Linked DNA regions of Homo sapiens: all the other regions are reported to be linked to region 1. Evidence: microRNA targets listed by miRTarBase, many of them from high-throughput screens and not tested one by one. Region 1 holds a microRNA gene; each other region holds the end of a gene's coding sequence.

Region 1 (10,360 bases):
TTAGAACATCAACATTTAATCACTAGTCTCCATCTAAAAAAAAAAAAAAAACCCCAAAACAAAAAAACCCCCCAAAAAAAACAAAAGGCAGCAAGGATGAGAAGCATTATTATGGAAGTCAAGACCACCCCTGTAAGGGCCAAGGTTATGCTACCTTTTACAGAAAATGAGCCTTGAAGGCAAAACATAGCATCATAGTTGAACTTGAAAGTAAGAAAGAAAAACAGTATGAAAGATATCTCTCTTATACACACACTGCCATGTAATTGATATAGATATCAACTTGATAAATTAAAAAAATACAGCTGGGCACGGTGGTTCACACCTGTAATCCCAGCACTTTGGGAGGCTGAGGTGGGCGGATCACGAGGTCAAGAGATTGAGACCATCCTGGCCAACATGGTGAAACCCCGTCTCTACTAAAAATACAAAAATTAGCTGGGCATGGTGGCGCGCACCTGTAGTCCCAGCTACTTGGGAGGCTGAGGTGGAAGAATCGCTTGAATCCGGGAGCTGGAGGTTGCAGTGAGCCGAGATTATGCCACTGCACTCCAGCCTGGCGACAGAGCCAGACTCCATCTCACCGAAAAAAAAAAAAAAAAGTCAGTCAAAACAGTCAGTCCTCGTTTTTGTGGGTTCTGCATCTGCAGATTCAACCAACTATGGATCAAAATATTTGGAAAAAACAGTAAAAAATAACACAATTTAAAATACAGTATAACAACTATTCACATAGCATTTACATGGTACTATGTAGTATAAGTGATCCAGAGATGACTTAAGGTATATTGGAGGATGTGTGTAGATTATATGCAAATACTGTGCCATTTCGTATACAAGACTTGAACATACGTGGATTTCGGTATCCATGGGAGTCCTGAAACCAATCCCCTGTGGATATTGAGGGATGACTGTATATAAAATATGATTAAGTAATACACATACAAATATCTTAAGTATTTGTAAGTGTTTTGAACACCTACCTTAGTGGAAGATTATAGAGGTTTTGAAAAATAAAAAGCCTATCTTAACAATAGTTATTCTGGAATTCTTAAAAGCCAGGCTATTTTAGAATCCATAAAACATCTGTTTATTGTGAAAGTTGTGTAAAGGGTCAATCTGTAAATCAGTGTAAGTACCTAGTGGAATGTGAATGCTTTACCTTTTATCCACTGAACTTATGTTTTTTTAAAACCTGCTTAAAGGCTTGGACTTCCAAATACATTCTGATCACATTAGTAATTTTTTAGTTGACCACTGTAGGCATTTGCCAATAACTAGTATTAATGTAGTGGACCCAGAATCCCATTTTACTTGTGCTGCTCTTTTTATGCCCTCTCTTTTTAAAAGTGGGCATCATTCACCATCCTTGACAACCATTTTATCCAATCTAAAGCTGCTGCAGGAGAACCACCTGCTGAGCATCACCTGGAGGTTCTCCCTGTTCAAGTATAAGGCTTATGCTCTGACAGAGGGAACTTTATCCACTTATGACCCCCAAGTTAATTTAAGATGCAGGATTTGATTTATCAAGCTTACGTGTTAGTTCCTAGTTGTCTAGGATCTGTTTCTGGTTCCAGATACAGCCAAAGATGTGGTAGCAATTCTAATCAAATTGATGTGCTTTGCTAAGGATTTTGAAATTGAAACTTAGATCACTTTTCGAAGAAAGGGCCTAATCTCTGAAATTTCCCTCTGTCTACAGTTCCTATAAGATCCATATTTGTTGGCTATCAGGTCAGTGTTAAAGGTAATCTTTTAAGCTTCGAATTGCAGATTTATATAAATTATACATGGTTGTTCTAAATTTTTTTTTTGAGACAGAGTCTCGCTCTGTCGCCCAGGCTGGAGTGCAGTGGTGCAATCTTGGCTCACTGCAAGCTCCGCCTCCTGGGTTCACGCCATTCTCCTGCCTCAGCCTCCCGAGTAGCTGGGACTACAGGTGCCCGCCACCACGCCTGGCTAATTTTTTGTATTTTTAGTAGAGATGGGGTTTCACCGTGTTAGTCAGGATGGTCTCAACCTCCTGGCCTCGTGATCTGCCCGCCTTGGCCTCCCAAAGTTCTGGGATTACAGGCGTGAGCCACCACGCCCGGCCCTAATTTTGTAAATGGTTGTATAATCAGGATTTGCCATGGCAAAGATTGTGGTTCCTAAGCCCATTTCTGGACCAATTATTGCCCCAAGGTTTATTTTCTCGGAGTTGTTTACTTCTCAAAGAAAAACTTGTAAAAATTCTTGCACACTAAAGTGTTAAAGCTTTAATGTGTTAACACATTGTCAAGAGTACTACATTGGAATTTTGAAAGGCTGGGTAGTAGAATCATGACTATGCTTAACACAAAGTATAGTCATGCACCGCATAACAACATTTTGGTCAACCACAGACTGCATGTACAGTGGTGATACCAAAGATTATAATACCATATTTTTTCTGTACCTTTTTTATATGTACACATTTTTAGATGCACAGATACTTACCATTGTGTTACAGTTGCCTGCAGTATTCAATATAGTAACCTGCTGTACAGGCTTGTAGCCTAGGAGCAATAAGCTATCCCATATAGCCTAGGTGTACAGTAAGCTATATCATCTAGGTTTGTGTAAGTACATTCTATGCTGTTTGCACAAGGAAATCGCCTACCAATGCATTTCTTAGAACCTAACCCTATGGTTAAGCAACGCATGACTGCAGTCACTTATGTAACCAGCCTGGCTGCCGTGCTATGGAGATAAAGAGCAGATTGGGCAACCAGCTATCCTGCCTGCCAGTAAGCTGTAGTTGATTATACTACTGACCAGTGATGCGTATAACTTTTGAGGTTTTTTTTTTTTTTTTTTAATGCGTCTAACTTTTTTTTTTTTTTTTTGAGACAGGGTCTGGCGCTGTCTCCCAGGCTGGACTGGAGTGCAGTGGCATGACCTCGGCTCATTGCAACCTCCGCCTCCCAGGTTCAAGCGATTCTCCAGCCTTAGCCTCCCGAGTAGTTGGGATTACAGGTGCCTGCCACCACACCCAGCTAATTTTTGTATTTTTAGTAAAGATGGGGTTTTACCATGTTGGCCGGGCTGGTCTTGAACTCCTAACCTCAAGTGATCCACCCACCTTGGCCTCCCAAAGTGCTGGGATTACAGGCATGAGCCATCACACCCAGGCTTGATTAGTATAACTTTTAAGGGTTTTTTTTTTTTAATACATGTGAAACCAAACAGCACAGGGCCCAATACATTGCTCTGTCGCCTTGCTCTGTCACCAGGCTGGAGTGCAGTGGCGTGATCTCCACTCACTGCAACCTCTGCTTCCCAGGTTCAAGTGATTCTTCTGCCTCAGCCTCCCAAATAGCTGGGACTACAGGCACGCGCCACCACGCCCAGCTAATTTTTGTATTTTTAGTAGAGACGGGGTTTCACCATGTTGGCCAGGATGGTCTCGATCTCTTGACCTCGTGATCCGCCCCCCTCGGCCACTCAAAGTGCTGGGATTACAGGTGTGAGCCACTGCGACCGGCCGCCGAATACGTTTTCATGATTACAAATTAATGGTTTAATTGTCCATTGATGAAAATTATGCATGTGAAGTTTGGCGAGGTCTACTGTAAATATGAATTACTTTAAAGATGACTTTCTTTTGAAGCTCATTTGATATAGTCATCGTTGGTGGCGGAATTGTGGGGCTTGCCTCTGCCAGAGCACTCATCCTGCGACATCCATCACTTTCTATTGGTGTTCTGGAAAAGGAGAAAGATTTAGGTATGTATATAATCAATGTTGTTCTTTGGGCTTACTTGGGCATCTGCTCATTTTGTCTGTTGTGAATCTTTCATGCTGAATGTCAGTGTTAGTTTCTTAGTTTGTGTTCTAAAAGCAGAGTGTGGGACAAGGACATGGCTATAGGTTATTTGAGAGGTTAAAGCCGAGTGTGGGACAAGGAGGACGTGTCTATAGGTTATTTATTTGAGAGGTTATCTCAGGAAACAGGAGTGAGGGGGTGAGGAAAGTAAGACAGGGAAGGAGGAAAAGACATGAGAACACATCAAGATTGTGGCTGTGAGCTTGATTCCACCGGAGCCTCTGAGGAGCAATGTAGTATTTCCCAGGATTGTGCTCACTTTATCCATCGGCTCTTCTCTCTATTGGTTGAGGATTGCCGCTAGTGATGTTGAGCACCCCGTGCCCTTCTCTAAAAAAGTTACCAGAGGCCCCAAGGCAGAGTGCAAAGAGCCCTAGGGGGCCCCTGAAGTGGTTTGCTGGTAATGAGAGGTGAGTTTGTGCACCAAAGTTGTAGTTGAAATCAGAGATGGGCTGGAGGGATGTGACATGGATACCAGGGATGTTAGAAGAAGTTACCAGTGATCTGAACAAATTCAGGCAGAATTTTACATGATGTGGTCTCTAATAGCTTCAACTATAAGTTTGTTCTCTTACCTCTTATGTTTTGTATGAATCATGTACTTACTCTTACCCTGTTTCTCTTGTTCTGTAGCTGTTCACCAGACTGGACATAACAGTGGTGTCATACATAGTGGAATTTATTATAAACCTGAGTCTCTGAAAGCCAAATTATGTGTACAAGGTGCAGCCCTCCTCTATGAGTACTGTCAGCAAAAGGGAATTTCCTACAAGCAGTGTGGCAAGGTATGGCATTTTATTAGAGCCTTGACTAATTTCCAACTAGCATTTGCTTAGTGATGTTTAATATTACATTTTTTAAAAATGTATTTTTTTCTTTGTATCTATGTAATTTTTCAAATCTAATCTTAGGGAATAACTAAAAAAAGATGGTGTGACGTTATGTAATTTTCTAAATAAAAGTTTTATTGACATATAATTTATGCACCATACAATTCGCCCTTTTAAAGTGCACAGATCAATTTTTAGTATATTTATAGAGCTGAGCAATCATCACCACTATCTAATTTCAGGCTTTTTCATCACCCCAAAAAGACACCCCATACCCATTAGCAGTCACTTCCCATTTCTACCTCCCCCGATGCCCTAGCAACCACTAGTATACTTTCTGTCTTTGTGGATTTGCCTGTTCTGCACTTTTCATATAAATAGATTCATATACTATGTAGTCTTTTGTGACTGGCTTCTCTCACTTAGCATAATGTTGTCAAAGTTCATCCCTGTTGTAGCATGAATCAGTACTTCATGTCTTTTATGGCTGAACAATATTCCATTGTATGGATATACCACATTTTATTTGTTCATCAGTTGATAGACATATGGATTGTTTCCACCTTTTGGCTATTATGGATAATGCTGCTATGAACATTCATGTATAAGTTTATTTGTGAACATATGTTTTCATTTATATTGGTTATATACCTGGGAGGGGAATTGCTGGATTGTCAGGGTAACTCCATGTTTAACATTTTGAGGAACTGCCAAATTGTTTTCCAAAGCTCTGTGCTATTTTACATTCCCACCAGTAATTAATAAGGATTCCAATTTTCCATGTCCTTGCCAACATCTATTTTGGTTTGTCTTTTCTATTTTAGCCATCCTAGTGGAAGTTTTGATTTGCAGTTCCCTAGTGATAATGATGTTGAGTGTCTTTTATTTTTTCCTTTTTAGAAAATAGTTCTTGAGCCCAAGGGTTTGAGACCAGCTCGGGCAACATAGTGAGACCCTATCTCTACAAAAAATTTAAAAAGTTAGCCGGGTGCGGTGGTGCACAACTATAGTCCCAGCTACTTGGGAGGCTGAGGTGGGAGGACTGCTTGAGCCTGGGAGATCAAGGCTGCAGTGATCCATGATTATGCCACTGCACTTCAGCCTGGGCAACAGAGTGAGACCTTGCCTCAAAAAAGTTAAAATTATTATTTTTTAACTTTATTTCTTATTTAAAAGTTGAGACAGGATCTTGCTTTGTTGCCCAGGCTGGTCTCAAACTCCTGGCTTCAAGCACTCCTCCTGCCTTGGCCTCCTGAAGTGCTGGGATTACAGATGTGAGCCACTGTGCCTGGCCTAAAATTATTTTTTAATTGACAAAAATTGTAAATATTTATCATGTACAACATGTTGTTTTGAAGTATGTATACGTTATGGGCCGGGCAGGGTGGCTCACGCCTGCCTGTAATCTCAGCACTTTGGGAGGCTGAGGCAGGCAGATCACTTGAGGTCAGGAGTTCGAGACCAGCCTGGCCAACATGGTGAAACCCCATCTCTACTAAAAATATAAAAATTAGCCGGGTGTGGTGGCACACGCCTGTAATGCCAGCTACTCGGGAGGCTGAGGCACGAGAATTGCCTGACCCTGGGAGGCAGAGGTTGCAGTGAGGCGAGACCACACCACTGAATTCCAGCCTGGGCAACAGAGTGAGACTCTGTCTCAAGAAGTATGTGTACATTGTGGAATGGCTAAATCAAGCTCACCAACATATGCATTACCTTTCATACTTATTTTTTTTTTATGATGCAAACACTTAAATCTACTGTCTGAGCAGTCTTCAAGAATATAATACATTATTAACTATAATCAACATTTTGTGTAATAGATATCCTGAACTTATTCCTCTTACTTAACTGAAATTTTGTGTCCTTTAACAAATATCTTTCCACACCACCCCTGCCTCCCTGCCACCCTCAGCCCCTGGTAACCACCATTCCACTCTCTACCTCTGTGAGTTCAACTTTTTGAGATTCTACATGTAAATGAGATCACGCAGTATTTATCTTTCTGTGCTTGGTTTATTTCACCTAAGATAATGTCCTCCAGGTTCATCTCTGTTGTCATTTGTGGCATGGACCATTTGTGACAATAGAGATGAACATGGAGGATATTATCTTAAGTATTTCTCATTATCTTAAAGATTTTCTCCTTTTTTAAGGCTGACTGGTCTTTTGTTATGTATCCACCTGAACTGGCCTCCCACAGTGTTGGGATTACAGGTGTGAGCCACCACGCCTGGCCTGATTGTATGGTTTTTGTCATTCATCTTGTTGATATGATGTGTCACCTTGATTGATTTACATATGTTGAACCATCCTTTGCATCCCTGGGTTAAATCCCACTTGGTCATGATGAATGATCTTTTTAATGTGTTGTTGAATTTGGTTTGCTAGTATTTTGTTAAGGATTTTTGTATAGTGTTCATCAGGAATATTGGCCTATAGTTTTCATTTTTTTGATGTGTCTTTGTCTGGGTTTGGTATCAGGGTAATACCAGCCTCATGGAATGTGTTTGGAAATATTTCCTCCTCTACTTTATGGAATAGTTTGAGTAGGGTTTAGTATTAGTTCTTCTTTAAATGTTTGGTAAAATTTAGCAGTGAAGCCATCAGGTTCTGGGCTTTTCTTTACTGGGAGACTTTTTATTATGGCTTCGATCTTATTGCCTTTTATTGGTTTGTTCAGGTTTTGGATTTCTTCATGGTTCAATCTTGGTAGGTTGTATGTGTCCAGGAATTTATTCATTTATTCTAAGTTTTCTAACTTATTGGCATATATAGTTGGTCATAGTAGCCTTTAACAATTTTTTGAATTACTGTGGTATTGGTTGTAATGTCTCTTTTTTCATCTCTGATTTTATTTATCCGGGTCTTCTCTTTTTCTTAGTCTGGCTAAAGGTTTGTCAATTCTATTTATCCTTTCAAAAAACCAACCTTTCATTAATCTTTTGTATTGTTTTCTTTGTTTCAATTTCATTTATTTCTGCTCTGATCTTTATTATTTATTTTCTTCTACTAATTCTGAATTTGGTGTGCTCTTGCTTTTCTAGTTTTTTAAGATGCATTGTTAGATTATATGAAGTTCTTCTACTTTTTTGATGTAGGTGCTTATAGCTATAAACTTTCCTCTTAGTACGGCTTTCGCTGTTTCCCATAGGTTTTGGTATGTTGTCTTTCTATTTTCATTTGTTTCAACAGATTTTTAAATTTCCTTCTTAATTTCTTTATTGGCCCACTGGTCATTTAGGAGCGTATTGGTTTTGTTTGCTTGTTTGTTTATTTTTTTGAGATAGAGTCTCTGTCTCACCCAGGCTGGAATATAGTGGCACTATCTCACAGATCACTGCAGCCTTGACCTCCCGGCCGGGCATGGTGGCTCGCACCCCTAATCCCAGCACTTTGGGAGGCTGAGGCGGGGGATCACCTGAGGTCAGGAGTTCGAGACCAGACTGACCAACGTGGAGAAACCCCATCTCTACTAAAAATACAAAATTAGCTGGGTGTGGTGGCTCATGCCTGTAATCCCAGCTACTTGGGAGGCTGAGGCAGGTTAGTTGCTAGAACCTGGGAGGCAGAGGTTGTAGTGAGCTGAGATCGCGCCATTGCACTCCAGCCTGGGCAACAAGAGCGAAACTCTGTCTCAAAAAAAAAAAGTCCTCCCACCTCAACCTCTGGAGTAATGGGGATCACAGGTGCACCACCATGCCTGGCTAATTTTTCTTTTTTTTTTTTTGAGACAGAGTCTTGCTGTTACCCAGCCTGGAGTGCAATGGTGCCATCTCAGCTCACTGCAACCTCCACCTCCTGGGTTCAAGCAATTCTCCAGCCTCAGCCTCCCAAGTCGCTGGGACTACAGGCTCACGCCACCATGCCTGGCTAATTTTTGTATTTTTAGTAGAGATGTGGTTTCACTATGTTAACTAGGCTGGTCTTAAACTCCTGACTTCAAGTGATCTACCCACCCAAATTGCTGGGATTACAGGCATGAGCCACCATGCCCAGTCATTTTGTTGTTGTTGTTCGTTTTGGTTTTTTTTTTTGAGTTAGGATCTCCCTCCGTTGCTCAAGTTGGTCTCAAACTCCTGGGCTCAAGTGCTCAAGTGATCCTCTCACCTTGGCCACCCAAAGTGTTGAAATTACAGGTGTGAACCACTATGCCTGGCCAGAGGCATATTGTTTAATTTCTGTGTGTTTGTATAGTTTCCAAAATTCCTCTTGTTATTGATTTCTAGTTTCATTCCATTGTGGTCAGAGAATATACTTGATATAATTTCATTTAAAAAAAATTTTAAAGACCTGTTTTGTGGCCCAACATATTGGTCTATCCTTGAGAATGATCCATGTGCTGGGGAGAAGAATATATATTCTGTAGCTGTTGGATGAAACTCTCTGTAAATATCTGTTAGGTCCATTTGGTCTGTAGTGCTCAGTAGTTTATTCTTTGTGATGCTTTTGTGAGGAGAATTGTTTTCCTACTTTCATTTTTTATAATTCATTGCTAATGCATAGAATATGATTGATTTCTGTATGTTGATTTTTTTTAATCCAGTGACCTTTCTGAACTCATTTTGTTCTAATTGTGTGTGTATGTGTGTGTGTGTGTCTATGAATTCCTTAGGCTTTACTATATGCAGGATCATGTCATCTGCAAATAAGTTAGTTTTACTTCTTTTCCAATTTAGATGTCTTTTAACTACTTATTCTGCTTGCCTGATTTCCATGGGTGGAAGCTCCAATACTGTGTTGAACAGAAGTAGTAAAAGTGGACCTTCTTGAATTGTTCTTGATCTAATAGAGAAAGCATTCAATCTTTTACCCTTAAGTATGATGTTAGCTGTGGATTCCCTTTATCAGATTAAGGAAGTTCCTTTCTATTCCTAGTTTGTTGAATGTTTTCTATCATGAAAAGGTGTTGAATTTTCTCAAATGCCTTTTCTGCTTCTATCAAGGTGATCATGTGGTTTTTATCCTTTATTCTATTAATGTAGTGTATTAATACATTTTTGGATGTTAAATTGATTTTACATTCCTGTGATAAATCCCTCTTGGTCATGGTGTAAAATCCTCTCTATATGTTGCTGCATTCAGTTTATTAGTATTTTGTTCAGGGTTTTGCATTAATATTTTTAAGGGATATTGGTTTGCAATTTCTTACGATATCTGGTTTTGGTAAAAGGCAAAATATTTTTTCTTTCTGAAGAGAAACCAGAGCACTGGTTTTAGTATCAAACTAATATTGGCCTCACAGAATTAGTTGGGAAGTGATTCTTACTCTTCTGTTTTTTGGAACAGTTTATGAAGAATTAGTATTACTTTTTTTTTTAACATCTGGTAGCATTCATGAATAAAGCCTCTGGGCCTGGGCTTTTTTTTTTTTTTTTAATGTGGGAAGTTTTCAATCACTTCATGTGTTATAGGTTTATTAAGTTTTTCTTCTCAAATCCGTTTCAGAAGTTTGTGTCTTTCTAATAATTTGTTCATCTAGATTTTCTAATTCGTTGCCATACAGTTGTTCATAGTATTCTTTTATAAGTCCTTTTATTTCTGCAGTGTTGGTAGTCATGTCCTTCATATAAGTTTTTTTTTTTTTTTTTTTTTTTTTGAGACAGGGTCTCACTTTGTCACCCAGGATGGAGTGCAGTGGTGCAATCTCGGCTCTCTGTAGCCTTGACCTCCTGAGCTC
Region 2 (10,360 bases), not on the chromosome of region 1:
CCATCCTGGCCAACATGGTGAAGCCCCGTCTCTACTAAAAATACGAAAATTAGCTGGGTGTGGTGGCACATGCCTGTAGTACTAGCTACTCAGGAGGGTGACGCAGGAGAATTGCTTGAACTTGGGAAGTGGAGGTTGCAGTGAGCCAAGATCACACCTCTGCACTCTAGCCTGGGTGACCGAGTGAGACTCCATCTCAAAAAAAAAAGCCTCAGCTCTAGAAGCTGGGCAAAGGAGCATGACTTATTGGGGGTGACCACCCTTAGCCTCCTGTTCCTCCATTCTTGTGGACCTTATTGGCTATAGATGTTGAATAGTTCCCTTGCTGGTCTTGGGTGATGTTATCCTTTATTAACCATCTCTATACTCCCCGCTGGTCAAGACCCCTTGGTCGCTATTTTCTTATTATTTTTTGAGATGGAGTCTTGCTCTGTCACCCAGGCTGGAGTGCAGTGGCACAATCTCGGCTCACTGCAACCTCTGCCTCCCGGGTTCAAGAGATTCTCCGGCCTCAGCCTCTCGAATAGCTGGGACTACAGGCGTGTGCCACCACGCCCAGCTAATTTTTGTGTTTTTAGTAGAGACAGGGTTTTACCATGTTGGCCAGGCTGGTCTTGAACTCCTGACCTCAAGTGATCCTCCTGCCTCGGCCTCCCAAAGTGCTAGAATTATAGGTATGAGCCACCGCATCTGGCCCTTGGTCATCACCTTTGATCTTGCTGGTAATGGTGGTAATTGTGGTCTCCTGGCTTCTGGCACTTAAACATTGCCACCGGGTCTTTATTATTCTGGGGCCCTAGTCAGCCCCGTCTTACCACCTGTTTTCTTGGAACACTCCTGGCACTACTTGTGTGAGTCCAGGTCTGCCAGGAAGCAGACAACAAAAGGGGATTACCTATGCAAGAAATTTATTAGGGGCAACAGTTGTAGGAAAAATGAGGTGGCTGAGAGAGCCATGTGACCATGATGCTGGTCCAACACTGTGTGAAGTACAGAGGGAGGGAAGGAAGGACGGGAGGATTCGGTGGAAACATCTAAGACTCAACTTAAACTGAAATTCATTTCTAAGAAAGTCAGCCAAGGTCCGGCACGGTGGCTGACGCCTGTAATCCCAGCACTTTGGGAGGCCAAGGCAGGCAGATCACCTGAGGTCGAGAGTTCGAGACCAGCCTGACCAACATGGAGAAACCCCGTCTCTACTAAAAACACACAAAAAATTATCCGGGCATGGTGGTGCATACCTGTATTCCCAGCTACTCGGGAGGCTGAGGCAGGAGAATCACTTGAACCCAGAAGGCGGAGGTTGCAGTGAGCCAAGATCTCCAGCCTGGGCAATAAGACCAAAACTCCGTCTCCAAAAAAAAAAAAAAAAAAAGAAAGTTGGCCAAGGCCATAGGATAGTCCTCATGCAAAAGTTACCTGTCACTGAGTCTTCCAGAAATGGGCCTGCGTCAGTAGCCCTATCACTCTTAGTCAAGACTAGGAGGATCCTTGGGATGAATGCAGTTGTAGATTTCAGTGCTCAGCAGATCAAACAGAGGTCAATCATGTTCCCCACAGCTGGAGATCTGAGAGGCTCATTTTCAAGGTCACCACATCTGAGTAACTTCTTTAACTAGAGAATCTCTTTCATATAAAAGGCATAGCATGGCTGGGCGTGGTGGCTCACGCCTGTAATCCCAGCACTTTGGGAGGCCAAGGCGAGCAGATCACCTGAGGTCAGGAGGTGAAGACTGGCCTGGCTGACATGGTAAAGCCCAGTCTCTACTAAAAATACAAAAATTAGCCGGGTGCAGTGGCTCATGCCTGTAATTCCAGCACTTTGGGAGGCTAAGCGGGGCAGATCATGAGGTCAGGAAATCGAGACCATCCTGGCTAACATGGTGAAACCCTGTCTCTACTAAAAATACAAAAATTAGCTGGGCGTGGTGGCAGGCGCCTGTAATCCCAGCTAATTGGGAGGCTGAGGTACAAGAATCGCTTGAACCCAGGAGTCGGAGGTTGCAGTGAGCCAAGATCGCGCCACTGCACTCCAGCCTGGCAGGAGTGAGACTCCATCTAAAAAAAAAAACAAAAAAAATTAGCCAGGTGCGATGGCATGCGCCTGTAATCCCAGCTACTCGGGAGGCTGAGGCAGAAGAATCACTTGAACCTGGGAGGCAGAGGTTGCAGTGAGCCAAGATCATGCCACTGCACTCCAGCCTGGGTGACAAAGTGAGACTCAGTCTCAGGGAAGAAAAAGAAATTGTTTAGACTACTAAGCTAGGACATTGGTGACTTCATATTGACAAGACTTAAGGGATTAAAAATGAAATAACAGGCCAGGCGTGGTGGCTCATGCCTGTAATTCCAGCACTTTGGGAGGCTGAGGCAGTGGATCACTTGAGGCCAGGAATTTGAGACCACCCTGGCCAACATGGCGAAACCCCGTCCCTACTAAAAATATAAAAAAATTAGCTGGGCATGGTGGTGTATACCTGTAGTCACAGCTACTTGGGAGGCTGAAGTGGGAGGATCACTTGAGCCTGGGAGGCAGAGGTTACAGCAAGCCGAGATTACACCACTGCACTCCAGCCTGGGTGACAGAGTGAGACCCCATTTCAATTAAAAAAAAAAAAAAAGAGTAACAAGTAACATATTTCTAGACACCCCCACATTATCCAGCTAAGAGACCTGAACTTGTCTGTCACAGCAACCTCAGTGACTGTCTAGACGAGAATCTAAGACTCCTGGAGAAGAAAAACTCACCCAGCATTCTGATCTGTAGACAGTAGAGACCGGACTGTAGTTTGAATATTACTTCCTTTATGGCAATTTGCCAGTTTGCAGGAATATCATGTCTTTTGGAGAGGGTCTCAATCAGAGAAACAAATGTTAGCATTTGATATTTCGTTTACTTCCTTGACTCAAGGGCAAGTGACTCCTGTGAGCTGAGGGGGTAGCATACTGTTTGCCTAGTGAAATACCATCTCTCTATCTCAAGTCAGGACATCATCTTCAAGAGAGGAACTGGGGTCATCGCTAACTCTGGAGCTTCCACTGGGGTACAAGTGAGGTGTCAGAACTTCACTGAGCTTAGATTCCGTGGCAATTTCCCATCTTCCCCCCTACCCTGTCACCCTTTCTCATGTTAGGCCCTCATTGTTTCCCATATGTTCCTGCACAATCTAACCAGCAATTTTTTGTACCAGGCTTATGAGAAAGGAGGAAGCCACATCATCACTCAACACCCCCTCCATAGCTCAAGCCTGGGAATTCCCCTGGACCCTCCTGGAGGCACTCTTTTTAACTCTGGTGACATTTCTCTTAAATGGGAGGGTCTACAGGCATTGGAGTTTGAAGGCAGAGCATAACCATTTATCCAGGGCAGGCATCCCCTTCTTTATTCCAGGAAATAAGTGGCCTGCCAACTTCCCACTTACAACTTTCATTAACCAGCAGCTTATCCAACTGTTGGCAGCTCACACAGAGCTGGCTTAGGTAACAAAAGTGCCAGTTTTTTGTTTTTGTTTTCTTTTTTTGAGACAGTCTTGCTCTGTTGCCCAGGCTGGAGGGCAGTGGTACAGTCTAGGGTCACTGCAACCTCTGCCTCCCAGGTTCAAGCAATTCTCCTGCCTCAGCCTCCCAAGTAGCTGGGATTACAGGTGCCTGCCACCACGCCTGGCTAATTTTTTGTATTTTTAGTAGAGACGAGGTTTCACCATGTTGGCCGCGCTGGTTTTGAACTCCTGACCTCGTGATCCACCTGCCTTGACCTCCCAAAGTGCTGGGATTACAGACGTGAGCCATCGTGCCCGGCCATTTTTTTTTTTTTTTTAACCCAAGCATCTGTTCAGTGATGTCCTGAACTTTGTTTCCCCCTCAGCCTTCAACTCTCCCTTTATCCAAATCCAGATATTTAAGTTGGTACCTATGTTCAGCCTCTAAGGAAGCCTTTCTGCTGGGTGTCTGTAACTGGATAAACCTGTTATTACTCCTCAGGGACCAGCGTGGGTTCATGGCACTCCTCACATCTCGACAGTAGACTCCTTATTCAGCTGGCCCTGCACCCTGCTTTCTAGAGCAAGCCCAACAGCTCCTCCACCTTCCTCCTCTCTTCAGCTGACCTTTCCGATGACCACTGCTGGGCAGTTCTAGCCCATGTGTCATAGCCTCTTCTATGAACCCGTTTTTTCTTCTATTGGACAGTGGGGTTCCCAGCCTCAGCACCCAGAAAACTACTTGAAGACTGTAGTGCCACATCATGAGTATGACTGTCTGCTTTGTTGTAATTTTCAATGCAGAAGAAATAATTTGTGGGGGCTTAGCCTAGGGTGTTCTGGAGACAGAGCTATGAAGAGTGAAAATGAGCTTTCACCCAGGCTCTCCAACTCCTGCTTTGCTGTTGGTAACACAAAGTATAGACTGGGAAGACGAGGACATATAAAATTTAATTAAATACCATCTGTCATTTTCCTTTATTAGGATTTTTTCTTTTTTTTTTTTTTGAGGTGAAGTCTTGCTCCCGTTGCGCAGGCTGGAGTGCAGTGGCGCGATCTTGGCTCACTGCAACCTCCACCTCCCAGGTTCAAGAAGAAGCTGGGGCTGGGTGTGGTGGCTCACGCCTGTAATCCCAGCACCTTGGGAGGCCAAGGCGGGCAGATCACGAGGTCAGGAGATCGAGACCATCCTGGCTAACACGGTGAAACCCCATCTCTACTAAAAATACAAAAAAATTAGCCGAGTGTGGTGGCAGGCGCCTGTAGTCCCAGTTACTCAAGAGGCTGAGGCAGGAGAATGGCGTGAAGCCGGGAGGCAGAGCTTGCAGTGAGCTGAGATCGTGCCACTGCACTCGAGCCTGGGAGACAGAGCAAGACTCCGTCTAAAAAAAAAAAAAAAGAAGCTGGGATTACAGGTTTACGCCACCATGCCTGGATCATTTTTGTATTTTTAGTAGAGACAGGGTTTCACCATGTTAGCCATGCTGGTCTCGAACTCCTGACCTCAGGTGATCCATCCTCTTTGGCCTCCCAAAGTGCTGGGATTACAGGCATGAGCCACTGCACCCAAGCTTTATTAGTATTTTTAACCTGTTTCTTCCCCCGTAAGATAGAATAATAATATGTATTCCATAACATTAAGAATTACTTATTAGTAATATATATTTACTAAGATGTTACTTAATATATTAGTAAACCATAAAGAGATAAAACAGAGAGTGTTACCAACAAACATAAGTTGACTAAGAACAAGGACAAACAAATGTCTATTTTTAGAATTTTGGCCAGACATGGTGGCTCATGCCTGCAATCCCAATGCTTTGGGAGGCTGAGGCGGGAGGACTGCTTGAACTAGAAGTTTGAATCCAGTTGGGCAACAAAGCAAGACCCCCGTCTCTACCAAGAAAAAAAAAGCAAAAAAAAAAAAAAATTGGCTGGGCACAGTGGTCCACAACTACAGTCCCAGTTACTTAGGAGGTTGAGGAGACAGGATTACCTGAGCCCAGAAGTTTGAGGATGCAGTCGAGATAGGATAGTGCCACTGCACTCTAGCCTGGGTGACAGTGAGACCCCGTTTCTTAAAAAAATTTTTTTTCAGAATTTCACTTATAGTCAATCACTGACACGGAAAACAAAAAAAGGGTACTGTGAAAAACAAAAACAATGGTGTTGGGTTTTGTAATTTGGGGTTCACTTCTATCCTAGGACCTCTGTCATTTTCCCTTAGAGCACCAGGCTCCATGAAGTTAGTAAGCTTATACCTATGGATTCAGTTCTCCTGGAATCCAGTATACTCCATTTGCTGTTCAGCTGGAAACTGGAAAACATTTTCAGCCTTTCCAGCCTAATTCCAGAGCACCATGATTTATGGCAACGAAGATTCTTGAACTCAAACAGAACAAAGAAACTGAGGCAGGTGGCCAGAACTGTACTGAGCAGGAACCCTGAAACCCATACTTGCCCATTGCTGCTGCCACGGTCAGAAGTGCCACCAATGACTAAAAGAAATAAAGGGAACAAAAGTCCTCTCCTCCTCTCTCTTCCTCCCACTTTAAAGTCTCCTGGATTCAAAGAAACTAGCAGGAAGCCAGCAGACAAGTCTGGGAAATGTAGATCCCTAGATCTGAGAGTAAATAGACATAAGACCAGGACATTTTTTTTTTTTTTTTTTGAGACGGAGTCTCACTCTGTCACCCAGGCTGGAGTACAGTGGTGCAATCTCAGCTAACTGCAACCTCTGCCTCGCGGGTTCAAGCAATTCCCCTGCCTCAGCCCCCTGAGTAACAGGTGTCCGCCACTACGACCAGCTAATTTTTATATCATTTAGTAGAGATGAGGTTTCACCTTGTTGGCCAGACTGACCTTGAACTTCTGACCTCAGGTGATCTGCCCACCTTGGCCTCCCAAAGTGCTGGGATTACAGGCGTGAGCCACACGGCCAGGGCACAGGGTTCTTAAGAGGCAAACACATCGCTTTCCACTGGCAACAGCAAAACAGAACCGCAAGCTAAAGCCTCAACCACTTCATTTGTGTGAAAAAGAGAAAATCTATGGCTGGGTGAGGTGGCTCATGCCTGTAATCCCAGCACTTTGGGAGGCTGTCAAGATGGACAAATCACTTGAGGTCAGGAGTTGGAGACCAGCCTGGCCAACATGGTAAAACCCCGTCTCTACTAAAAATAGACAAATAAGCCAGGCATGGTTGCAGGCGCCTGTAACTCCCAGGTACTGGAGAGGAATGAGGCAGGGGAATCGCTTGAACCCGGGAGGCAGAGGTTGCAGTGAGCTGAGATTGAACCAGTGCACTCCAGCCTGGGACAACAGAGTGAGATTCAGTTAAAAAAAAAAAAAAAAAAAAAGGCCGGGTGCGGTAGCTCACGCCTGTAATCCCAGCACTTTGGGAGGCTGAAGCAGGCAGATCACAAGGTCAGAAGTTTGAGACCAGCCTGACCAACATGCTGAAACCCGTCTCTACTAAAAATACAAAAATTAGCCGAGCATGATGGCGCACACCTGTAATCTCAGCTACTCAGGAGGCTGAGACAGGAGAATCTCTTGAACCTAGGAGGCGGAGTTTGCAGTGAGCCAAGATGGCGCCACTGCACTCCAGCTAGGGCTACAGAGCAAGATTCCGTCTCAAAAAACAAACAAACGAACAAACCCGAGAAATCTACCAGGTTGGGATTATATCCCTCTCCCAAGAGGCAGACATGTTCCTGCCTCTAGAAGTGAAAGAGACAAAAGGCACTAGGAGCCATTATACATAGCAAATTCTTTATTTTCATATTAACAGTAAAACATAAAACAGAAACATTAAAACAGGGCATAAACAGAGTTCCCATGGCCCTGTTTTCAAAGCAGGGGCAAGAATACATACAATGACAAGACATTTTGAGTTCGTTTAACTCCAAATCCTCAAGTGGGGAAAAAAACTTAGAGGTAGTGACAAAGGAATATGGTGGGGCAGAGACTGGTGGAGCCCAGAAGACTAAAGCCTGGATTTATAAATGTGATGTCCTACAACGGGGACTGGGAATGGCATCAGGGTTTTTTTTTGTTTGTTTGTTTTTTTTGAGATGGAGTCTTGCTCTGTCACCGAGGCTGGAGTGCAGTGGCGCGATCTCGACTCACTGCAACCTCTGCCTCCCAGGGTTCAAGCAATTCTCCTGCCTCAGCCTCCCAAGTAGCTGGGACTACAGGCATGCGCACCACTGCACCCAGTTAATTTTTGTATTTTTAGTAGAGATGGGGTTTCACCATGTTGGTCAGGCTGGACAAGGCTTTTTTTCTTTGGAGAAATCACTCACGATCGTATGAATTTGCTTCCAAAACATCCAAATTTAATGTACTAATGCAAGGACTGGTAAGACTTAAGATTCACATAACGTCCCTCATAGTTAAGTCTCTTGCTTCCTACTATTAGTGGAATCAATCAGCATCAGGTACTTCAAAGAAAGTCAAATCCTAAGCCTGCCCAGGCCCAAAGACAAAGCCAGCCAGGACCTGACCACCTGTATCCTCTTGGTGGCAATCTGCTGAAGCCAGATGAGTTCTGCTTTTTAATTCCAATCCTATTCTGCCACTGAAACTAGGCCTGGGCAACCACTCTTAATCATTAACATATCAAAAGGAGTATCTCCTCTGAGAAAAGAGCTTTTCTCAGGTTCTAGAAGCTAGCTTTTACAAAAGACGTCTTCAAATAGGGGCCGGGTGCAGTGGCTCACGCCTATAATTTTGGCACTTTAGGAGGCTGAGGTGGGAGGATTGCTTGAGGCCAGGAGTCCAAGACCAGCCTGGACAACGTAGTGAAACATCTATTTCTACAAAAAAATTTAAAAAAGGAAAAAATTATGTCCTAAAATATTAAAGGGTCATTAAAAGGCACAACTAGAACTTGGAACTCTGGGGAAATCTAGTGCAACAACCCCTTGCCGGAGAGAAAGATCCTAGAAACAGCTCTTGAATTGACAGGTCAGAAGTGTTTTATAATAAAAACGATAACAACTCTTCAATAATCATTTGAGAAAATCAGACTGTTAAGCCATTTTCTCCCATGAACAGGACACTGACCTGCCCACATCTTGAAGCATATTCTGTTGTGGAAGTGGGTTGGCAAAGTAGTCTGAGGCAAGGCAAAGAAATACAAACTGAGCCCTAGAAAAGGTTAGGGAGGCAAATCAAAGGAAACTGGAATCAAACATCAGCTTCACATGGGGAAGGCTTTAACTGGATAACTGGAATGTATAAAGAACACTTAAGAACAGCCCCTCAGTCTGAGGAATTGGCTTTATTTAGATAGGAACTCTCAAAATGGGAGACAAGTTCTTCTCATGTTTTCAATAGCAGTCTGAATAGCTTTTGTAAATTCTCTTATGTCTTTTCTCCTGATCTCTGACACTAGGGGAGACTCAAGTAAAAGCTTTGACCTATCACTCATCTTTTCCTGGCAAGAGATAGTGTTCTTCAAAGCACTAGCTTGGATAAAACCAATCCTGAGATCCTAAGCTGGCTAGAAAAAACAAAATCTTCCCCACCGCTCAAACAACTGGCCTCTTTCCTTACCTTTCGCAAAGCAATGAACTTAATGCACTAGGCATTAGCAAAGGGAATCGTTCACTAGCTGCTTCCATCACTGGGCCTGCCAATGTCCCAGCACTTCACACCTGGAACACAAGTGTTATTGCCACAAAGCACACCCAGGTGTGCTATCACACACTTGTGTGGAGATGAGACAAGTTACTAAAAGATTGTCAGCCTTCAAGGTCAGAAATAAACCGGACACAAGGTTCTACAGTGCCCTCTTGTGTTCAACTGAATAATACTCTTTTACATCTACGTTGCATCAAATCAGTACCAAGACGATGGTTAGTCCCTTCAAGGATACTTAAGTGACAGGACAACTCAGATGGGATGTCATATTCCCCAGAAAATGCTTGATGCCCACTCACATCCTAGATGATGAGAGGACACTCTCTAAGGTCCAGAAAGTCACACAGAAAATAAAGAAAATAAGAATTTCCAACATACAATAATGGTTAATGAAGGCTTTAAACCCAAGAAATGGATAATGTAGATAAAGTACCCATCAATTACTCTTTTAGTGGACATAACAGATACACAATCTGTAGTGTCTCAGTGACCTAGGGTCCTAGAATCATACTAATGCAAACAAACCATGATTCCCAATGTTCTAGACTGCAGACAATAAACAGGGATCTTGCTTGGGGCTGCTAGGCGCTAGCAAACAACATCTAACCAGCAGCATGCCTTCAAGGTTTCGAGACCACAGTCACTCCCACTTATAGATGTGGACCATCTTCTCTGTTAAGGTAGCCAAGTAGCTGTTACGGTTCACCTCAAATGGGCAGATGTCCAACACAGGCTGATCGGTCTGTAGGTCCTGGAGCAACGAGCCACTGGCAGCATCCCACAGCTAAAGAACACAAGCAGAGGGAAGGGTCAGGAGTCAGTCAGTACACGAAGGGACTTCCATTCTTCATCATCTAACAAGTCTGAAAGGCTGCAGAGAGAACACTACCTGGAGAGCAAAGCAGGCTGTCCCTAACCTTTGCAAGGTTGTTCAAAGTCAGCACACCTGACATAGTTCAGGTACAGCCTCACCTACTGTAATCAGCAATTAGTCTACCTGTAAGTGGACCTGAAATAAAGCCCAGCTTCCATTCATTCAATGTGCCAGCCTCTTCTAGGGACAGAAGGGTCAATAAGATAAAGTCCCTGTCTTTGCCCTCATGGAACTCACCCTTTTTTTTCTTTGAGACGGAGTCTCACTCTTGTCACCCAGGCTGCAGTGCAGTGGCACGATCTTGGCTTACTGCAACATCTGCCTCCTGGGTTCCAGCGATTCTCATGCCTCAGCCTCC
Region 3 (10,360 bases), not on the chromosome of region 1:
GACTGCAGAGCTCATGCTCTTAGCAGTGTGTTTTACTGTTTTTGCTTATGGCTTCCCTATGTCTTGCTTTACTACCTTTAGATACCATATTTAGTGATGGTTTTGAAGTAGCTGGGATCTCCATGTGCTATTACATCTGCCCAGTTTTAGAGCAGTGTCTCTTACCCATAATTTAGTCAGATTGCAACATTGATCCAAATGTGTTTACACTTGAGATCATAATACATAAGGAAACTCAAAGTTTTGAACTCTAACACATTCCCACTTTTTCTTGCATATTATAGTGTCAATAAATACTGAAAAGGAAGAACTGTGCTTTCTTCCTCAGAAAGAGGAAGATTTATGACCAGGTGGTGATAAAGGTGAAGTATGTTCTGATGGACATACTTCCATACTTCTAATGGGCATATGTTTGTCCATTCCATAAGATTTTACTTTCTTAGTTATAATACATAGTATCTTCAGGTCTGGCTTTGAAAAGAAAATAGGGAGTAACAATAATTTGAGGAATATAATGTCTCTGTATGTTGCATTTTATATTATTTTGAAGCTTTGAGACACTTGTTCATAGTAAGGGCAGCTTTGTTAGCAAATTGTTTCCAATGAGCTTGCTAAAAACAAACTTTTTGATACTGTTTTGTCACAGATCTAGTCCTAGAATGATTATAGTCTTCTCTCTTTCTTAAGCAGTGATAAACCTTTTAATGAGAACAAAAAGGAAATAAATTGCTAACTCTGAAGGAACCAGTAAGAAATACACTGAAGTATGGTCTGTTGTTTTAGAATAATTTGTTAAATGGACCAGAGTAATATAGTGGAACATGCATCACCTTATACCATATAGTAACTGATTCTTCTAAGTTTACTTGAACAGATTTCAGTCAGGAAAAAACATTGCTCAATTGTGTTCTTCAATTTATTCAACAAACAATTGAAAATAATATTTTAAAGGACATAATCTCTTCATATCACATCTTAACAATTCTTGAATGAGATCCAGTTTGTCCATGCCTTGTAAGTAAGTTTATAACCTACTATGCTTTAGGGCCTCCTGCTACCTTAGGTTGACATATATTTAAGAAAAATAATTTCATTTCAATAGTAGCATAAACATTAGAAAAATAAATTTGCTGGAAACATGAATGCAATCTAAACCAAATGTGATTTTAAAATTATTTCTGCCATTAATTCCCTCCATATGTGTGAATAATTGAGTTGATTTTATAGTGAAGTACCTTATGAGCCATACTTAAGGGTTTCTGAGAGGGACTATGAAGTTTTTCCTGGCTTAAATTCAATTAAGTTTTCATTATAGGGTCACTATGACATGAAAAGGAACCAGTATGAACACTTTTATACTTATTCCCTTCTATTTTAAAAATAACTTGATTATGGATTTGTATTCTGGCATTGGTTTTTGAACCATTGTGCTTTCATTCTTTCTAGTCTGTCTAAAAATCACTGGAGCGTTTAAGATGGCAGCTGACTAACATAGGCCTTTGAGGTCTTTTGGTCTTCTAAAGGAAGAAGGCCAAATTTTGGGCCCAGTTTCTTAAGGATGTTTTCAAAATGTACAGTGGCTAAAATCTTGTAAGCAGTAATTTTGTGTTTATGATGGCTGTCTCCAAGTTTGGGGGAAAATAATGGCAAAACAAAAAATCACATTTGAGTAGTTCTTAGAGCAATTCCTAGAGATGTATTTCTTACCTGGCCTTTCCTCTCTACCCTGTATCTTTGCATTATTTAATACTTGGAAAAACCCACATAGCATTAAAAACAAAGTACTACTGAACAAAGTGATAAATACATTTTCTTAAATCTTTCTTTTCTAACCACAGGAACATTTAAACTTACAATAGAATTCACTGAAGAATATCCAAATAAACCACCTACAGTTAGATTTGTCTCTAAGATGTTCCATCCAAATGGCAAGTATCACTTTTAGTACAGTGTTTTAAACTACTATAGTGTTTATTATGGAGTATTCCACATTTCCTGTGTATTTTGTGGTGCCTGAGTATTTGTTTAGGCAGCTTGCTGCTTCTTGAAAGCTGAACTTGTTCTTGGTTGTCTGTGGCTGTCTTGTCCTAGAACTGAAGCAGTGGAGGTATTTTCCCTTTGCTTGGAGTCTGGGAGCCTCCTGATTTTGATGACCTTTGTCATTTACTTATTAAACAAAATGAAGGATGCTCTTGAGGTTTCCTTTTAATGCTAGGCCAGATTGGGATAGTCTTGTGTTGTAATTATTTTCACTAGCGTTTAGAAAAGTAGTTTTCATTGGACGCATATCAGAATTACTGTGGAACATTTTAAAAACACAGATGCCTTCGCCCCACTCCAAACCTAATGAATAGGATTCTGTTGTTGAAGGCCAGGCATACGGTATTGTCAGAAAAGCACCACAGGTGATTCTAACTTAACCACTTTGCACTTTTTAAAATAGTAGTAAGCCTAGAACAGCTTGCCTTTTATTTAGGTTAATGAAGTATTTTTCAGGGTATCAGATATGTTTATCTTTATGCCAAAATGAAATCTTGTGAACTCTGAGTGATCTTTTGTTATTTCAGATAGGGGATACAGCCTACAAATTTGGTGGAATGAATTTCCCACATGTCTGTGGATAGCTAGGGACCCTGTTCAAAAATGTTTCTGATTTCCTGGATAATAGGGCAGCCTTTTCCAAAGGATGAACACTAAATATCTTCCAGTTTTATACTGATCACATCTGACATTCTCTGATCATCCTGATTATTTCACTAGTGGTGGTTATGACTTATCTTTTTAGGCAGTTAACTGGGAAGCAACATAGGAATCTTTAAACTTCAAAAGCAAAGTATTCTTGACTATTTTTGTTTTGTCTATAATGTTAAAACCTTAGTGGTCTTGTTACGTTTAATGTACCTACTTCTTTGTTCTTAGTCTATGCAGATGGTAGTATATGTCTGGACATACTTCAGAACCGTTGGAGTCCAACCTATGATGTGTCTTCCATTCTAACATCCATACAGGTGAATTTTTCCTTAATGTGACGAACTATAACTTTTAATATGTTTATATTAGCAATTGAATTGTTTTTGAAAGTCATAATGTAATAGATCTTTTTATTTTTGGTCAAAGCTTGTTTGTTTTATAGATGAAAAGTAGACCATTAAGACCCAAGTCAGCTGGGTACAGTCGCTCACACCTGTAACCTCAGCACTTTGGCAGGCCAAGGTGGGAGGATTGCTTGAGTTCAGGAGTTTGAGACCAGCCTGGGCAACATAGTGAGACTCTTCTCCCTTAAAAAAAAAAAAAGCCGCATATATTTTCCTAGCTACTAGCAGATTCACATAACTCTGGGTTTGTATGCTAAAGACAAGAAATGTAGCTGTACTTAGGACAATTCAATTGAGTGTCACTACCTTATAAAATAGTTGTTTTGCATTAAGGAACTGACATTTTAAAAATTGTCTCTTTAGTCTCTGTTGGATGAACCCAATCCCAATAGTCCAGCAAACAGCCAGGCTGCTCAGCTGTACCAGGAGAACAAACGGGAATATGAAAAGCGTGTTTCTGCAATAGTAGAACAAAGCTGGCGTGATTGTTGACCCCGGGTACAGTTTAAAGAAGCTGGCCATAAGAAAAATATATATTGATGTGTTTGTCACCTCCCTACTCCTGTCATTACATTTACTTTATTAAAAGCAAAATAACTGTTGTGCTGTTTCCATCTTCCTTGCCAAGTTTTCCTACCCCTTCTACCCTCTCCTTAAACATCAGAAAACACCCTCTATGAAATCAAATGTACTGTACCTGGGTTACTTGCAAAAATTACTAATGCTTCAGTTTTTCTGTTGTATTTCATTTCCAGTTTTCAGGCAGTTATTTTTATTATTGTACTTTAAGCTTTTAAGATGAATTGTTATACAAGAGGTGCTTATGCTTAGCTTGATGACCAGGATGTTATTTTTAACAAAATGATTGCTGAAGTGTTTCATCCTGGCTGGTCCTTCACTTGTGTTGGATTTAGAAGTGAATGTGTTTGGAATATGGCCTACAGAGAATAGAAACAAATCCATGTAAACAATTTTGAAGGAGGCATGGGAGCTAAAAATCCTGTGATACTAAGATCTCAGTCATATGAATTACAACGTAGTATTTACTGGCAAGAAGGAGAAAGTTGAAGGACTCAGCTAAAGGAGTACAGCAATTGTAGTAACTGACACATCCTCTCTTTGCAAGCTGCTGACTGGGCACACTCATGCCAAGTTTCAGAATTATTGGTCTTCTGGGTTTTTGCTTTTTAAAAGAGGTGTGGGAGCAGAGGAATGGAAACAATCGTGAGTTTTTGAGCTAGGGAAAGTTGGAGCTCCTTTAATCTTTTTAAAGGATCAGTGCTGCCCTAAGTGAATAAACTCAATTGTCCATCTTTATTTTAGAGTTTTAATGAATTCAAGGAAGGGAGCATAGCATATCTGTGGCAAACTATTTTCCACTCAAATCCTGAGTTATTGCTGCATGCTTTAATTTCTTCCCTTTCAGCATCTGAGAACCTTAAAGCCAATGTCTGCGATCTTTTTTTGGATATTTATACTTTTAGATATATAGTACCTTTAAGTAGCAGTATGGGACAAGGCTTGTAAATGTTTTGTCTAATGTTCTATTGTCACCTTTTATGCATTTATCACTTCCAAATCTAACTTTGCACAAGTAACCCATGTAAAAAAAAATGTACATTTTTCAAAAGTTGTAAATAAAAATAACCTTAAAATTTCATAGTCAAGGTATCTTTTTTTTTTTTTTTTTAGCTCAGTATAAACTTTTTGTATTGGTTTCTTATTGGGATCTCATATGTACTCATTTCCCCCCTCAAACATTAAGGTAAAAGCAAAAATACTCATTCTGGGAGGGGAAAAGACAAGACAGATACTTCTGGAGAGAACTTTTTTTTTCTTTCCAGTCATAAGTGGTAATGCTTTTTAAATATATTAACAGAATATGTTGCCGGGCACAGTGGTTCACGCCTGTAATCCCAGCACTTTGGGAGGCCAGGGCGGGCAGATCACGAGGTCAGAAGATCAACCATCCTGGCTAACACAGTGAAACCCTGTCTCTGCTAAAAATACAAAAAGAAATTAGCCAGGCGTGGTGGCATGCCCCTGTAGTCCCAGCTGCTTGGGAGGCTGAGGTAGGAGAATCGCTTGAACCAAGGAGGCGGAGGTTGCAGTGAGCCAAGATCGCGCTACTGCACTCCAGCCTGGTGACAGAGTGAGACTTCTTCCTCTCAAAAAAAAAAAAAAAATTTAACAGAATGTAAAATTATTAAATAAAGTTACCTCAGTATACATTATAATCAATCAAGGGAATGAGGTTATGGGGGGCGTGCGGGGGGCAGGGATAAACCAACCTAGGTATTTATCAGCACCCTCAGAGACCAAGATCTAACTTGTTGATCCTGACATACCACCTCTTTAAAAGCCCTAGCTCAAAAACAAACAGTACCAAACTTTTTTTTTTTTTTTTTTTTTTTTTTTGAGACGGAGTCTAGCTCTGTCGCCCAGACTGGAGTGCAGTGGTGCAATTTTGGCTCACTGCCACCTCTGCCTCCTGGGTTCAAACGATTCTCCTGCCTCAGCCTCCTGGGTAGCTGGGATTACAGGCGCTCGCCACCATGCCCAGCTAATTTTTGTATTTTTAGTAGAGATGGGGTTTCACTGTGTTGGCTAGGCTGGTCTTAAACTCCTCCTGACCTCATGATCCACCTGCCTCGGCCTCCCAAAGTGCTGGGATTACAAGCCTGAGCCACCGTGCCCGGCCTAGATGGTATTTTAAATCCTATGCAAAGTTTGGGAGTACAGATATCCTCAATCACTTTGATTAAACAAAACTACTTTCTTCTGAGGAGCAACCCATCTCATTTGAAAGAGGCAAGGACAATGACTTTGTAAAAACTACCACCTCTTGGTACTTGTTTGGTTGGGTGGATGGGGCTAAATGAAGTTAAGTCCTTATGACACATGTATCTCACTCATCTTTTAAGACATGGTACTTGAAGCCTCAGTATGGAGTACAATCTGTACTAATTACCACATTACTTGGATTGTTTCACCTAGGAGCAATGTCCTTCAATTTGCTTAATAGTTTCCCTCAAGTCCATTTCTGCTTCAAAGTAGAACCACATTAAATTTTTCTATTTGGTGGATTAGTTTTACATTAACTTTTTCATCCTGCTATGTGGCTGAGTGCTTTAAATTGACACTGTTAATCATACCTGAAACAATGTAAGGCGAGACTCAGAATGGTCAGGTTTAATAACTTTTTTCTTCTGTACACCTGAGAAACACTATACCCAATCTCTTTCACAGGATAATCCATTTAAAACCTTACAACAGAGCCAACAAGCTGACCTCCCAAAACAACATATGCATGGTCAAAGGCACCACAAACCATTCATTTGAACATTTCATGCTAATTGCCTCTTTCTCCCTTTAAAATTTTTAACACCACAGGCTACATGTATTGATAACAAAGTTAATGAAAACAAATTTGCAATGTCCCTTTTTCAAATGGCAGTCAGGTTTGAACTTTTCAATTCTGCACGTGCTGATGTGGGGAAGGAGGTATGATGAAGAACCAAAGCTGCAATTAGAATCCTTTATTTAGGACCCATCTCCAGCTTCAGGGGTTACTCATAGCAAAGAGAATGCATTGTATACTACTAAAAAAGAATCCCAACAAAGTGCATGATATTGCCATTCATTTTGCAATCAAAGGGGAGGAAAAAAATCCAAAAAGTAGATCTGTGATACTAAAAGCTAGATATAAAATGGAAAGAACAGTTAGTTCCTCAGTATAAAAAACACTTAATCCAAATAAAATTTGAAATTGCTCATGTACCTGTACAGATTGTATAGGAAGGTTACTGGGTTAAGAATGACTACATTTCAAAGAAAGGGAAAATACAGTAACCAACTGAAAGGGGACAAAATGGAACAAAATGGAACAACAGCAAGCTTGTCAGCAGCTCATTCATGCCAACGCCATTCTCAACATTATTTTATCCTCAAGCAAGTTAAGTGATTTTGCTCTAATTCTGTATCAATATCACAGATCCTAAGAAGTTAGGCAATCTGGCCCCTCAAATCCAGTAACCAAATTTGTATCTACTTGGTGCAATTATTTGGGAGCCTTCCTAACTGTAACTACCTTAATATTCTGTTCTGTTGGACTCACCTAGACAAACCAGATTATATTTAACAATCCCCTACCTTTCCCTGCCTCAAAATCATTTGGGGGAAGAAAGAAATGTAAAGAGAGTAATCAGTGAAGTTTTCATATCCCTTAATCCCAAAGCCACTCTTACTCAGAGAATTGAAAACAGGTTTTTTTCTAACTCACAAATTCAACCATAGCTTCTGAAGGTTGGCATGAACCTTGTAAATTAAAAACAAAACAAAATTGTAGCCCGGGTGTAGTGGCTCATGCCTGTAATCCCAGCACTTTGGGAGGCTGAGAAGGGTGGACTGCGTAACTCCAGGAGCTTGAGACCAGAATCCCATCTCTACTAAAAATACAAAAAATTAGCCAGGCCAGGCGGTGCGCACCTGAAGTCCCAGCTACTCGGAAGGTGGAGGTTGCAGTGAGCCAAGACTGCGCCACTGCACTCCAGACTGGGTAACCGGAGTGGGACCCTGTCTCAAAAAACAAATTGTAATCCTACAAAATCTATAAACATTTTGCTTAGTTTTTTTTGCCAATGTTAATATGAAGTGGCAAAATAAAATGTACACCTCATTTCTCTTCCTACCGACATTAAGAAAGGCTATGCACTGTAGGAAGACGGTTAATGGAAAACAATTATCACACTGTTTAGTTACCGTAGATGAGTACCAGTTACAGAAATCCAGGTGTAAAGGCTAATCCCTTTATATTTTTTAAGCATTAATTTAACTACAGTGGGCAGCTGCTTAATGTAAAATATAAAAAACAGGGCCAGGCACGGTGGCTCAAGCCTGTAATCCCAGCACTTTGGGAGGCCAAGGTAGGGAGATCACCTGAGGTCAGAACTTCAAGACCAGCCTGGCCAACATGGTGAAATCCCGTCTCTACTAAAATACAAAAATCAGCCGGGCGTGGTGGCGGGTGCCTGTAATCCCAGCTACTTGGGAGGATGACACAGGAGAATCGTTTGAACCCAGGAGGTGAAGGTTGCAGTGAGTCGAGACTGCACCATTGCACTCCAGCCTGGGCAAGAAGAGCGAAACTGCATCTCAAAAACAAACAAACAAAAAACGGGAAAGGAAATTACGATTTCTTGTTGGCCAATTACATGTCAAGCACGGTGCTAAATGTTGTCAAGCACTGTAAACCACCTAATTGTCCTGAACATCATTTCATTAGAGGTGTCTAGTGAGCAATGGTAAATTCACCTGTGCTGTTATGAGGTTATACTTGATTTATCTGAGATACAAAAATAAAATCACATAAAAGGGGGCAGCCAAAGATTTGGTTGAAGCCAGCATGTTGGTCCATAGGAAAAAAGTGATAGTTGACTGATTCCTATCTGTTAAATCCGGACATTCATCCACATGTGCTCTGGGTGCTGAACTATTCTGTGCAAACACCACTTCCCTTCTCCAAAGACCCAGTGTTGCTACAAGGCTGCTGCCCGGAAATGAGCACGCCACCATTCTGATCAACTTTGGCTCCTTTTTATTCAGGAAGCATACACTAATTCTTTTTATACATTTTTTTTTTTTACATTCCAGAAATAAGCGAAAATAGCAGTTTTAAATATGTTACAAAGTTGGCTTTTCAGGCTTAATAAGCTTTTTGAGAGAGGGACCAGCCAACTGACCTTTTCATCAAAGCACCAATGTATCTTCAGTCTTTTACCAAGCTCTACCACAGCTGTGGTTGCCTTGGATGTGCTGCACATCCAAACCGTGTGAAAGCTATAATGGAGAGTTGCTGTGAGTCTCTCTGCAAGGCACCAAGAACAAACAGTTCAAGCTTCCTTTCTTCAGATTGAACCAAAGTTTTTGAAACTTTCAACTGCTCTCTCAAGTAGTGCTCTCTCAGCGTGAAGACTAGAATTTGTTAAAACCCATATATCACAAGATACAGTAAATCACTTCCAATAGTCTGGAAATCACATGGTAGAAGTTATAAATAAATGAACACTAAAATTACTTTAAGAAAGTTTTACATCATTTAGTTGGTAAGGACATTTACGTGTACAGCACAATTTATTGTCAAACATTCTATAACTGGCTTCACACAAAGATGAAAATAGATTAATACAAAATGATCTGACATTTTCAGTAAATCTGGAATTAAGACTGGATTTTTATTGTAGTCAATATCAACTTTACATATTGTTGCAGATTGCTGTGCTATGCCCTTTAAAATGATAATTTCTCAGGGTAAAATTCCATTTGGATATGTGTTCTTGCTTGTCAAACTACTAAAATCTGAGGGACACAGCAATATCAAAGACACAAACAGTAACTGCACAATATCATCTGCTGGATTAAGCTAATACAAGTGGACAGAATTCTTTAGGTTCCAATATCTAATAAACCACTATGTGAAATGAACAAGGTGAGACATCTTATGAATATACTCTGCAACCGGAACATGTAGCATTTCTTTAATTCAAAAATCTGCCTCATTAGGCATTTACAAAATAAATTAGTAAGATCTCAATTTGCTTGAGGCATAACAAGCTCGTAATGGCCCACTTGGCCTTCCTGTTTGAGCTGATCTAGTAGGTCTTCCTTCCGTCTTTTTCTACCTACCACTAGGTACCTATCATGGCCCACCCCATGAGACTTACTCTTAAGACCATACTTCTGGGCAATCTGATGTATTTGCTTCCGTTCATCATTAGTCAGCTCTCTAGAGAAAGTCAAATCTGTGTGGCTCTCGGAGCGGGCGTAGTTTCTGATGATCTGTTCAATATCTCTCTTGGCAATTTTATTCACCCTCTCTACATCCAGACCAAGCCCTTCCCGCTTATGCTGCTCTTTCACTGAGATAGGCTCCCGTATGCCCTCACCAGATTTACCTAAACCACCACCAGTCCAACCCATCTTTCTCAGCAGCTGATTTCCAATATTATCTTCTTTGATTTGCTGTTTGTAAGCCTCCTCTGCTGAGCGGCCCTGAATTTCATTTCTTGAAATCACATCTTCAACAGCTCCTTTCTTCAAGTTGTTAATGACAGTTGGCTGGGTCTTTTTGAGGGTTTTCACAGCTTCCCCAGCAGCTTCATATTTGACAGTTTTCTTCACCCCAACTGCTTCTGCAATTACTTCACTCTCTAGAATCACTTTGCATTTCCAGCGGAGGCCTGTCATCCTTTCATAGACATACTCAA

What was found. Region 1 holds the annotated microRNA hsa-miR-4504 (UGUGACAAUAGAGAUGAACAUG, at 6,760-6,781, shown strand). A microRNA usually pairs through its seed, bases 2 to 8, with sites in the 3' UTR of a target mRNA and lowers its output. Matches are read on the target gene's strand: a 7mer-m8 pairs with bases 2 to 8, a 7mer-A1 pairs with bases 2 to 7 and ends in A, and an 8mer does both.
Region 2: miRTarBase lists RFWD3 as a target of hsa-miR-4504. Seed matches in the 3' UTR shown: 7mer-m8 at 7,422-7,428.
Region 3: the mRNA of UBE2A is a reported target of hsa-miR-4504. Seed matches in the 3' UTR shown: 7mer-m8 at 3,641-3,647 and 7mer-m8 at 4,643-4,649.

The regions. Positions count from the first base shown.
Region 1 is chr14:50,296,292-50,306,651 of GRCh38, reverse strand. It overlaps MIR4504 (microRNA 4504), which reads left to right and starts at 6,706; the gene lies at 6,706-6,797. It overlaps L2HGDH (L-2-hydroxyglutarate dehydrogenase), which reads left to right. Exons shown (of 10, transcript NM_024884.3): 2 at 3,635-3,750; 3 at 4,484-4,635. RefSeq lists an enhancer at 6,471-7,164.
Region 2 is chr16:74,614,160-74,624,519 of GRCh38, forward strand. It overlaps RFWD3 (ring finger and WD repeat domain 3), which reads right to left. Exons shown (of 13, transcript NM_018124.4): 13 at 7,240-9,912. The coding sequence ends at 9,769. Among named protein-coding and RNA genes, the nearest start is that of GLG1, 12 kb to the left of the region's middle. RefSeq lists an enhancer at 6,602-7,101.
Region 3 is chrX:119,579,669-119,590,028 of GRCh38, forward strand. UBE2A (ubiquitin conjugating enzyme E2 A) reads left to right here. Exons shown (of 6, transcript NM_003336.4): 4 at 1,839-1,928; 5 at 2,920-3,008; 6 at 3,459-4,755. The coding sequence ends at 3,587. It overlaps NKRF (NFKB repressing factor), which reads right to left. Exons shown (of 4, transcript NR_163972.1): 4 at 8,669-10,360. Among named protein-coding and RNA genes, the nearest start is that of UBE2A, 10 kb to the left of the region's middle.